2 separate regions of the Homo sapiens genome follow, and region 1 is linked to region 2. The links come from fine-mapping of genetic effects on gene expression. Tissue or cell type: testis. Region 2 holds a variant in brackets; the other region holds the start of a gene. All regions are shown on one strand. Distances are between the middles of the regions. Region 1 holds the start of TSNARE1 (t-SNARE domain containing 1). Region 2 overlaps TSNARE1 (t-SNARE domain containing 1).

The links.
Region 1: it holds the start of TSNARE1, and the variant in region 2 is fine-mapped to the expression of TSNARE1 in testis (GTEx, PIP above 0.99).

What each region holds. Positions count from the first base shown.
Region 1 is chr8:142,400,952-142,406,322 of GRCh38, reverse strand. TSNARE1 (t-SNARE domain containing 1) reads left to right here and starts at 3,141. Exons shown (of 14, transcript NM_145003.5): 1 at 3,141-3,219. RefSeq lists silencers at 2,243-2,292, 2,733-3,302, 3,443-3,582 and an enhancer at 2,236-3,011.
Region 2 is chr8:142,227,514-142,232,884 of GRCh38, reverse strand. It overlaps TSNARE1 (t-SNARE domain containing 1), which reads left to right. Exons shown (of 14, transcript NM_145003.5): 13 at 3,306-3,412. The coding sequence ends at 3,401. Among named protein-coding and RNA genes, the nearest start is that of LINC00051, 32 kb to the right of the region's middle. The variant T/C (reference allele first, on the strand shown) is at 2,465.

The DNA of each region.
Region 1 (5,371 bases), 170 kb before region 2:
TACAATGGAAGTGGCACTGGCTTCAGTTACAGAAAACCTGACGAAATCCAATGAGGCAGACCCATAAAGGGAGCAGGGGCTTGTTCTCCCCATGGTGATGAGTCTGACGGTGCCATTGGGGCACCAAGGCAGCTGCTCACATCCTCAGCTTGGGACCCTGCCCCTTGCTGGCCACATGGCTGCTGTCCTCGGGATGCCGTGCCCACACTTCAGGCTGGAGCCAGGAGAAAGGAAGACTGTCAGTGAGGTGGGTGGCCACAGCTGCCCCTTCCAAAGGACCAGGAGGCTCGATTGTGCCTCCTGCAGTCATCCCCTGGGCAAACAGTGTCACAGCTGGCCCAGCTGCTGGTGAGGCTGGCTACATTGATGCCTTGAACAAAACTGGGGTTCTGTTGCTAAGGGACAAAGGAGGCCTGGGTAATAGTGAGGGCGGCTCGGCGGGGTTGGTGGGTGCAGGAATCAAGGACTGAGTGCCCGTGGGCTTTGCTGGAGCAGAAGCTGTGCTGGGAGCAGAGCAGGAGGTGCACAGGCCTTCTCCTGTCCAGGCAGGGGCTGCAGGGGAGCAAGGGATGGTCTCCTGAGCAGGTGACATTGAAGCCAGGCAGCAGAGGGTAGAGAGGAAGGGTGGGAGGGTGGGGAAACTCACGACAAAGCCATAGGTTGACACTGACCTGGAAATTCAGCTTAAACCCTGAGAAGTCCATGCTACTATTCAGAGAGGGAGCATTTCTGAGGTTGGCTTTAGTGGGTGCTGCCTCAACGTTCCTTCCGAAGGCCTTGGAACCACCCCCTAACCTTGTTGCCCACATTCCCTCTGGGACCTGGAATGGTAGATCCAATTTGGGGGGTGCCAGCTGAGGACCAGGCAACCCCCACCCCCTTAGGTAACAGAACTCAGCGTCCTGGGGCCAATCCCACTTATTCACCCTGTTGGTCTCACTGGTTGGCCAAGGGGTGGGACCAGAGTTCTTCCCAGGGAGTCCTGCTTCTCTGGAGGAAGGAGGGAGCCCAGAGCTGCCCGAGGTCATGTGATGACCTCTTCCAGGGAGGGGCAGAGATGAGGGAAGGGAGGGGAGCCCCGGCCCTAGGCCCAGGCAGCTATTGGCTATTTCCCTCATCCCTTCCTGAGGACCCCTTAGCATCCTCCTCCCCCTCCCCATCGGCTCAGCCTGAGGGAGTGGGCTCCTGGCTCTTCCACGGAGAGGTTTACCTTCCCTGACTTGCTGTGGGGCACTCAGGCGGGCTCATCCCAGATTTCGGAGGAGCCAACAGGTACGGAGCCCCTCCTCTGGTGGTTCCTACCCACGCTAGACCATTCCCCCTGCAGTGTCCAGGCACAGAAACAGCCCCATATACGCCTTGTATGGTCAAGAAAGCGGCTCCTGGAGGTGGTCTGCCCTGGGAGGAAAGGGCTTCACTTTCCCCTCCTTTGCACACCTGAACACGGAGCTGTCAGAGGAGGCTGAGTGAGGTGGCGGCCAGACAGACAGCGCCAGCCACGGAAGGGGAGGTGGGCACCGTGCCAGGCACCCGGCATCCTCAGTCCAGACTGACAGCTCTCAGACAGGCATTGGTCCTGGCGAACCTTCCCCTTCAAGTGGAAGCTGGGGGGTCAGCAGTCATGGGCATCCTCCCTGGTTAGGAGCCGGCTTCCCTGCACTCTAGCTGTCCTAGCCGAAGAGTGAAGCCCTGTCCAAATCATGGCGAGGCTGCAAGACAGGCACACACTACTGCCTCCTGGGAGCCCAGGGGAGACTGAAATACACCAAGGCAAGGAGCGTGGGTGGGCCCAGGACAGGCCGGCCTGAGCACCAGCCCAGGAATGCTGGTGGGCATGTGCCCCTCTTCCCTCCCACCCATGTGTGCACACATTTGTGCCATATACTACCGTTCCCATGTTTGCGCCTGGGCACACACTTGTGCCAGCATACACACACTTGTGCACTTGCACCTGGTGTCCAGGAACACTCCCTCAGCTCACAGACGTGCGCTGTGTGCACACAGTACCACGCAGTGTCCACGAGCACACTTTTGTGTTCGTGTTCACAGAACCCGTGTGCGCACACATGCACAGTCCTGGGCTGCAGAGAACCCCAGCCAGCGGGGCGGTGGGGGAAGGGGAGGGCACGCCTCCTTCCCAGGAGCTCAGCAAGGCTGTCCGCGGGAGCCCAGGGCTGCCCGCAGGGCTTTGGCGTAGGCCTCGCAAGCACAGCAAGCATCACAGAGTGAGGGCGGCGGGAGAACCTCCGCTTGCCGGAGAAGGTGCAGCGGACTCATCACTCTTGCTCTCCTGCCTTGGGTGTGACTCTTGGTTCACCTCTGGGGAAACAGGCTGAAAGGTGACCCTGGCGGCCCAAGGACACACACCCATTGTCCGCAGGTTCCTCCCAGGTGTCTTCTCCAGCAGGTCACCGGGAGAGCGAGGGGCTGGAGTCTTTCGGGAGCTCAGTGCCCGCAGGCAGAGCAGGGAAAGGGAGGCGCCCCAGGCCCCTGCGGAAGGAGGTCCCAGGAGGGTCTCCGCAAGGGGCTCCCTACTCTGCACTTCAGCTCCTCCAGGGAGGGGCTGCGACCTCGGGCAAAGGTCCCTCAGATGTCTTGAGACTCAGTTTCCTCGTTGGTGACACTGGGAGTCCGGAGTCCCCGCGGGGCCTGCCAGCCCCCGGCCGAGCACGGCCCCACGCGGAGCCCGTGCAGCCTGACTTGGGGCCCAACGCCCGTCCCCGCAGCGCGAGACGCGCAGGTGCCCGGCCCTGCCCTGGCCGAGACCCGCCGCCTGCGCAGCCCCGCAGAAGCTCCAGCTTTGGCCCGTGTGAGGTCCGGGCTCGGCCTGGGCTGGGCGGAGCCCGCTCCCGAAGCGCCTCAGCGCCGGGCCGCCGCCCTCCACGTGACCTCCACCTTCGCCGTCATCCCCATATGCAAAACGGGGAAACGGGGAAACGGAGGCCCACCACCAGGCAAGTGAGGACAGCCGACTCGCGCGCGCACCCGCAGAGGCCTCTTGGCCCAGCCGACCGCCGTCCGCGCCGCTTCCGGCTCCGCGCCGGGGCCTCTGGGGCGGGTAGTCCCCGCGCGCGTCCGGGACCGGCGGCCATTGGCTGGTGCGGGAGGGGGCGCGCACGCCGGCGGCGGGAGGGGCCGTCACGTGATGTTTGGGTGCCCGCCCCGCCCGCCTCGCCCGCCGTGAGCGCCCGGAGCGGTCCGCGAGCCACCGAGGCCCAGGTGAGGCGGCGGCGGTGGGGCTGGGGCCTGGCCGGGGCCGGGCGTGGGGCGGCGAGGGCGAGGCGGCCGGGGACCAGCGCGGGGCCCGGAGCCCGGCGGGGGCCGCGGCGTGGCGTGGTATGGGGCTTGCGGGAGGCCGGGCGGGGGGCGGGGCCGCGCCGGTGGGGAGGGGAGGGGGCGGGACCGTGCCGGGGGTGGACCCCAGGGGCGCCAGGGACCCTGAGCCGCAGCCCCGCGAGAGCGCCGCATTTCGGGGACCGGCCCGCGGGCACATGAGCCCCTCGGCGGGTCCTCGCGCGCTGTTCAGACCCCAGGTCGGTGGGCTCTGGGCCGGGCAGCCGGTGCCTGCGCCTGGAGGTCAGTGCCGTCCCGGGGAGCGCCCCAGCGCCTACTTGCTGGGTGCAAGGGTTGGTGCCCTGCAGCTCAACGAGCGGAGCCCGCCTTCGAGCCTGAGCTGGGGACCCCGTTCCTGTGTGCTTGCCTCTCCATGCCTTTCTGTCCCTTCTCCAAGTTGTAAGAAGGTGCTTCCTGGGTACTGGGGCCTGCGACATCCCCACCAGGGACTTTCAGGTGATGTTGATCTGTGCTGCCCCCGCAGAAACTCTCCAGGGACCTCGTGTTTGTTGCCTCATGGCGCACTCCTCCTGCTCTGGAAGCTCTGCCATGTCCAGTGTGGTAGCCCCTAGGCATGTGTGGCTGTTTACATTGTCCTTAACGTGAAGGATTCAGGTCCTCCGTGCCAGTGGTCACATGTCCGACACTCAGTAGCCACACGTGTCTGGTGGCGGCTGTGTGGGGCAGCGCGGGTAGGGAACACTGCTTATCACAGGAAGTTCTGTGAGCGGTGTGGTGCGGCTCAAAATGGGCCTCGCGCGTGCTGCTCCGCCGGTGCTTCTCCGCCCCTCATCCTGCCAGGTGCCTTTCCAGCCACACCTGGCGCCCTTTCTTTCCTCTGCTGCACACTTGCCTCTTCTTTTAGTTCCTGGCTCGCTCCTGGCTTGGGGGCAGCTCCGCTTCCGGTATGTCTGAGCTCACCTTTCTGACCGCTCTCCCTACAGTATTTCTTGTTTGTCATTGTCACTCATCTGCTTGTTTTCTGTTTTATCTTTAGTGCCTGTGAGACAGGGGTGGGGATTGTTGCTTAGGATACTCCCAGTGTGGACACAGTATTGAGTTGAAAGAAAGCTGAAGTTTGTTAGTACTGGAGTGCTTCCCCCGACTGAACCGCTGCTTTCATACCGTTCGACCCCATACATCACAGGACCGCAGCAGAAATCTGGTAGAACAAATGTTTGGACACAGCAGCACAGGCCGTGAATGCAGGTGGCTGTGGGAGGCTGGCAAATCCAAGACGACTTCCTGGAGGAGGTTGAGTTTTGGCTGGGTCACCTCTGTTTCTCTCCTCCTCTGCTGGCCTGGCCCCATGAACATCTGGCAGCCTCTGGCTGCTCTGACTCTATCCAGGAACCTTCCCTGGACACTTCCCCTGAGTCTGGCCTTCTGTAGATGCTGGGTCAAGAGCCTAGACCTAGGCACTCAGTCTAGGGGCTCATGGGCAGCCAGGTGTCCCTAAGTCTCTTCCACAGCTCCTCATGGCCTGCAGAGCGAGGTCCTGGGTTTGGCTCCTGCCAGCAGCTCCTGCCACATCTTCAGTCCCTGCTTTATGTCCCTGACAGTGCAGTCATTTTTCCTGCATAGTCTGTGGCTTTTCTCACTGGTGTGCCTGTCGATGCAGAGCCTTCTGCTTGGAATGCCCTGGCACTCCCGTGTTTGTCTCTCCTGTGTGCCTGGGAGCCTCTGTGGCATAGACCTCTGCTGTGTCACCCTTGTGTCCTGAGCACCCCACCCAGCACCGAGAGTAGGATAAGCACCTAGCAGGTTTTGATGAATAAATACACTGGACACGTAAGACTTTGAGGAGAATGTGGTGAGAAGTACAGCTAGGTCACGATGCTGGAGCTTGAGATGGAATCAGGGAGTCACCTTCCAGGTGGGCGGAGTTGGGGAGTCACCTTCCAGGTGGGGAGGAAAGACAAACATGCCTCGACCATGGCTGTACCAAGCCATTCGCGACACGGCGTGGGTGCATCCTTCCACGGTCCTGAAAAGGGGTGGTGAGTGTCTGCAGGTGGTGACACTAATGATACTGGTC
Region 2 (5,371 bases):
GATGCGGAAGTTGGGGTCGGGGAGGGGAGCTGGACAAGTCTGGGGCTGCAGAGCCCTCTTCAAAGGCCTGCCTCTGCCTCTGCCTCTGCCAACTGTCTCAGCCCCAGCATCTGGCATCCCTGGGCCCTGCCTGTCATCGCCTGCGCCCGCCTCTTCCCTTGAAGTCGGTGTCCAGATACGGAGCGGTGGCTTGGTGATGGGTAGAGAGGAGGCTGTGGAAGGGCCGGGCTTGGCAGCAGCTGGCTGGAGCTGCAGAGTGTCCCTGGGCGTCCTTTCCCTGCCTTTCTTCCGCAGGTGCTCCCTCGGGCTCCTCTGGGGCACATCCTTTGCTACATCCGGGTCCGCCCCTTTGGCCTGTCCGTTTCTGTGGTTCCAGCTTCCTTGCCTCCCTGCGGCCGCCCTCCCCTCATTTGTTGAACCCAGCGGGTTGGGGGATGGAGGGTAGAGACGTAGCGCAGGGAGACAGGCCTGACCTGGGACCACGTAAGGAGGCCCTCGGTTGGCCAACTTCAGGGCCACAGGAAGTGGCCGAGGGCCCAGTCTGGGCAGGGCATGGGCACAACACCCAACTGAAGAGGAGTATGAGGCCAGGCCGGGCCTGTCAGCTGCCTGGGGTCTGGAGCTGGGTGTGTGGATAGAGGCCCAGGGGAGTGCTTCCAGCAATGGCTACCAAGTTCTTCCCATGCACCAGCTCCTCCAGCATGCACCTCGGCCTGCAGACCAGGGCATGGCACCCCAAGTCAAAGGCCGGGAACTGCTGCTGCCGAGAGGCCCAGCACTGTGCTCAAGGCCACGGTCTGGCAGTGATGTGGAGCACAGGCCTGGAAGTGGAACTGCCTGACCTCAGCTCCTGTTTCTTTTCCATGCCCTTTGCTCCCCTCAGGTACCTGGGAGACCCCCACGCATGGTTCCTCAGGCTCCGTCTCAGGAGTGTGGGAGTAGGGCTGGCACAGGAAAATCCACCTTGCACTCTTATGGCACATACAGGGCACAGGTAACTCCAAGTGCACGGGGCTTATGGGGCAGGGTGTGGAGTCAGCAGCAGGCTCTGTGGCTGGGTGCCCAGCTCCAATCCTGGCTTTGCAGATCTCAGGCTGGTGGCTTTGGGCAGGCCACATCACCTTTCTGAGCCATCTCCTCTTCTGTAGACTGGGGGTGTTGGTGGGACCCACCTCTGTGCCGTGGTGGGGGATGATGCTTGGGAAAGGGCAGCTGTACTACTGACTGGGACGATGCTGGTGAGGGGACCATGGACCTGAGAGACACTGGCCACCCACAAACCCCAGTATCCTAAGCCATGGGCGCTGTCATGTGTCCTGAAGTTGTCCTTAATTCAGTGCGCCTTGTCCTGTGCACTGATGCAGAGCCCTGTCCCTGCCAGGAGGGTTGACTGCCCCCCCGCCAACCAGTAAGCTGAGGGCTTTGTCTGATTCACTCTTGGCCTTCTGTCCCCTTCTGGCCACCCCCCAACCCCTTATTACCCTGCCCACATCCTAGGATGTCCAGGCAGCAACATGACTTTGTGACAACACCTAGAGGGAGAGAGACCTGGACCTCAGATCTGCCACACACTGTGAAGCCTGGGAAGGTCTCTTTACCTTTTTGAGCTTCAGTGTCCTGGCCAAGAACACAGGTAGCAATGTGTTTCCCAAGGCTGGGAAGTGGTGCTGTTTCAGCAATTGGTCATTTTCAGGCCAGTATGTGGGTCCCTCTTAAGGTGCAATGACATTGAGACAGTTGAGGGAGCTGAGCTGGGGGCTGGTCATCTTGATGGACAGCTGGGTAGAAGGATGGGTGGATAGATGGGTGGGTAGATGAATGGGTGTATGTTTGGATGGATGGATGGATAGGTGGGTAGATGGATGGATGGAGAGGTGGGTAGATGGATGGATGGTTGAATGGATGGATGGATGGATGGATGGTTGGATGATGGGTGGATAGGTGGACGGATGGATGGATGGACAGATGGATAGGTGGATGGATGGATGGATGAGTGGGCTCATGGATGGATGGATGGATAGATGAATTGATGGGTAGATGGGTGGATGGATAGGTGGGTGGATGGATGGATGAGTGGGTGGATGGATGGATGGATGGATGGATGGATGGATGGATGGTTGCATTAATGGATTTTCATCCCAACATTTAACTGATGACCCAGAGGGGTAACCGAGGGGACTCATCCTTGGCTTGTCCTTTATACTTCCCTCCTCTCCCCTATCCAGTTACTCCTAGGTTCTGAGGATTCCACCTTCTGGTTTTGACTCTGTTCCATCTTACCCTCCCTTCTCTACCCTCCCCTAGGCCCCTGCCCATCTTTCATGGACACGTTAGTCTTCCGCCTGTCTGGCATCCTTGTCTCAGATCTCTTTTCTACCCATCCTCTTGTCTGGCTTCCTGAGTGCTCTCTCCAACAACACACTGCTAAACATGTCACTCTCCTGCTCTAAACTCCTGTCTTCCC[T/C]GCTGTCTAGGGGTGGTGTCTAAACTCCTTCATAATTTGCAGGACTGTCTCATCCCAATCTGTCTCCCTTCCCATTCCCTGTCCCTTGCTCCCTGCTCCCTCCTTTGGATACTTGGTACTTACCATTTCATTTAAGCTCCCGTTTTTCTCTGGGTTCTCCCTTAATCCCTTGCCTCTCACCCCCTGGTCTGCCGAGGGGTTTCCCACCCCACATTCAGGACCTGAATGAGGTATAGCCTTCTACATGAAGCCTTCAAATCCCTATCTAATCAGTCCCTTAGCACAGATCAATGTCTTTCTCTTCCATGAGACCTTTGATGGTGGGTCCAGAATTTTTTAAATTAGTAATAGCCACAAGAATATACAAGTAAGACTATCTGGTGAAGACTATATGTCTGGCATTCGCCAGGCCCCAGGCTATGTAGTTTCCAGGCATCACCTTAATTTTAAGGCTTTCAAATATCTCCATGGAGTCCATGGCATCATCTTATCCTTACAAAATAATTTAAGGTACCAAGAAGAGAAACAGCCGAGATCCCTCAGCTCAAGATGGACAAAGCATGAATCACACCCATGCCTGGCTGACTCTGGAGCTTAAGTTGAGTCTCCTGCCTCTCTCCCTTTGAACCTGGCTCCAGAGCCAGCCCAGAGCAGTTATTCAATAAACAGTCATGCTAGCTCAGGACAGAGCCCCTTGAAAGACACAGGTTCTCTCTGGACCCTGCCCCAGGGTGGACTCAGCCCCTGCATGCCACAGCCCAAAGTATGCACAAGCCAAATGCCCCTGAGGATGGGAGGTTGGAGGACCAGGATATGGAAACAACCTCTCTCTCTCTCCCAGCTCCAGAGACACAAGATCAAGTGCTGCTTCCTATCAGCTGGAGTCACTGCCCTGCTTGTCATCATCATCATCATCGCCACCTCTGTCCGAAAGTGATGCTACCCGTGGTGAGTACCCCACCTACCCGTACACCATCCATTCATCTGCACATCCACCATCCATTCATTCACCTATCCACCATCCATCTAACCATCCACCATCCATCCATCTATCCATCCACCCATTTATCCACCTGTCTACCGTCCATCTGTCCATCCATCTACCCATCCACCATCCATCCATCCATCTATCCATCTGCCATCCATCCATCCACCCATCCACCATCCATCCATTCATCCATCCATCATCCATCCATCCACCCACCATCCACCCTTCTATCCACCCATTCACCATCTGTCCATCCATCCACCCTCCATTCATCCATCCACCTTCCACCCATCTATCCACCCACCATCCATTTATCCATCCATCCTTCCATCCATCCATCCATTCATCCATCCATCCACCCACCCACCATTTATCCATCTATCCACTCATCCACCCATCCATCCATCCATCCATCAACTCATCCACCCATCTATCCACCATCTGTCCATCCATCTACCTTCCATTCATCACCCATCTATCCATCCATCCACAATCTGTTCACACATCCACCTAGCTACCATCCACCCATGCACCTGTACACCATCTGTTCGTCCATTATCCACCCATCCACCATTCATCCTTCCACCCATCCATTCATCTATCACCTATCCACCCATCATCCATCTTTCCATCCTTCCTTCCTTGCATCCATTCATTCTTCCTTCCTTCATCATCCTCTATGTGTTTGTTGAGCATCTCCTTTGTGTTAGGCATGGGATGGGCTCTAGGGACCCAGTGGTGCACATGGCAGAGGGGTGCCCTGTGTTCTTGCAACTCAGAGCCACTGGGGCAAGGCCACCCTGAAGCCTCTCTTTTCCTAGGCACTGACCTCCAGAAGTTTATGACTGGCAATTTCTCTGGGGCTAGCAGTCAGTGCACAGAACATGTTGGGCCATGTGGTGAGTGTGCATTCGGACCGGAGAGGAGAGGAATGAGGCGTCAGTGAGGAGAGCTCATCAGGAAGCTTCACCAGCTCCTGTAGGCAGGGAGGAATGGGTACTGAGACACATGGCTGGCACTGGAGCATGGCTGTCCCCAGGGCACAGGGCCCTGGGCTGCAGCCGGGCAGGGCTGGGACAGAACATGGGAAGGCCCTTAGTGTCCGTGGAGCCTCTGAAACATGTTAAGCAGGTATATCCATTACTGGTACTGCATGCCAAGTTAGCTTAAAGCTTAGTGGCTGAAACCAAATCAATGTTTGTTATCTCACAGTTTCTGTGAGTCAAGATTTGGAAGCGGCTTAGCTGGGTGGCTCTGGCTCTGGGTCTCTTGTGAGACTGTAGGTAGATGTTGGCCATTGCTGCATCATCTGAAGACTCAACTGCGGCTGAAGGATCCATTCAAAGCTGGATCTGCGTGTGGCTGACACTGGTGCTGGTTGCTGGTGGAATGGAGGCTCAGTGCCTCTCCATGTAAACTCCGGGAAGGCTGGCAAGGGAACAGGGTGGATGCCACCCTTGCTCAGTTCTGCAGTACTCGGCTGCTCACTCAAGGCTGCCCTACTTGAGTCTTACTGAGCACTGGAGACTCCCATGGTTGGTCTACTGTGTGCCAGGCCATGTGTTGTACATCCATTATCTAAATTTATCCTGTAGCCTCCTGAGGAATGCGGAGGCAGAGCCCAGCCTTCAGGGCCAGCATGGCCAGGACAGCATGGACTGAACAGGTCTTGGATTTGTGTGAAGACACACTGTGAACCTTCCAGATGTTGTTTCGCATCCCTGGGGTCTCCCCAGTCAGCTCGTCCCGCAACAGCAGGGCTTCTGTGTGTTCACATTAGGCAGGGCATGTGAAGACCCCAGGTGGCCTTACCTCATTTGGGTCAGCCGAGGTCTTGCTACTAAAATCCTGGATGGCAAAGAGAACTCCTGGTATCCAGAGCTGCTGGTGTTGGGGTTGTGGGCAGAATGGGGGGCCTG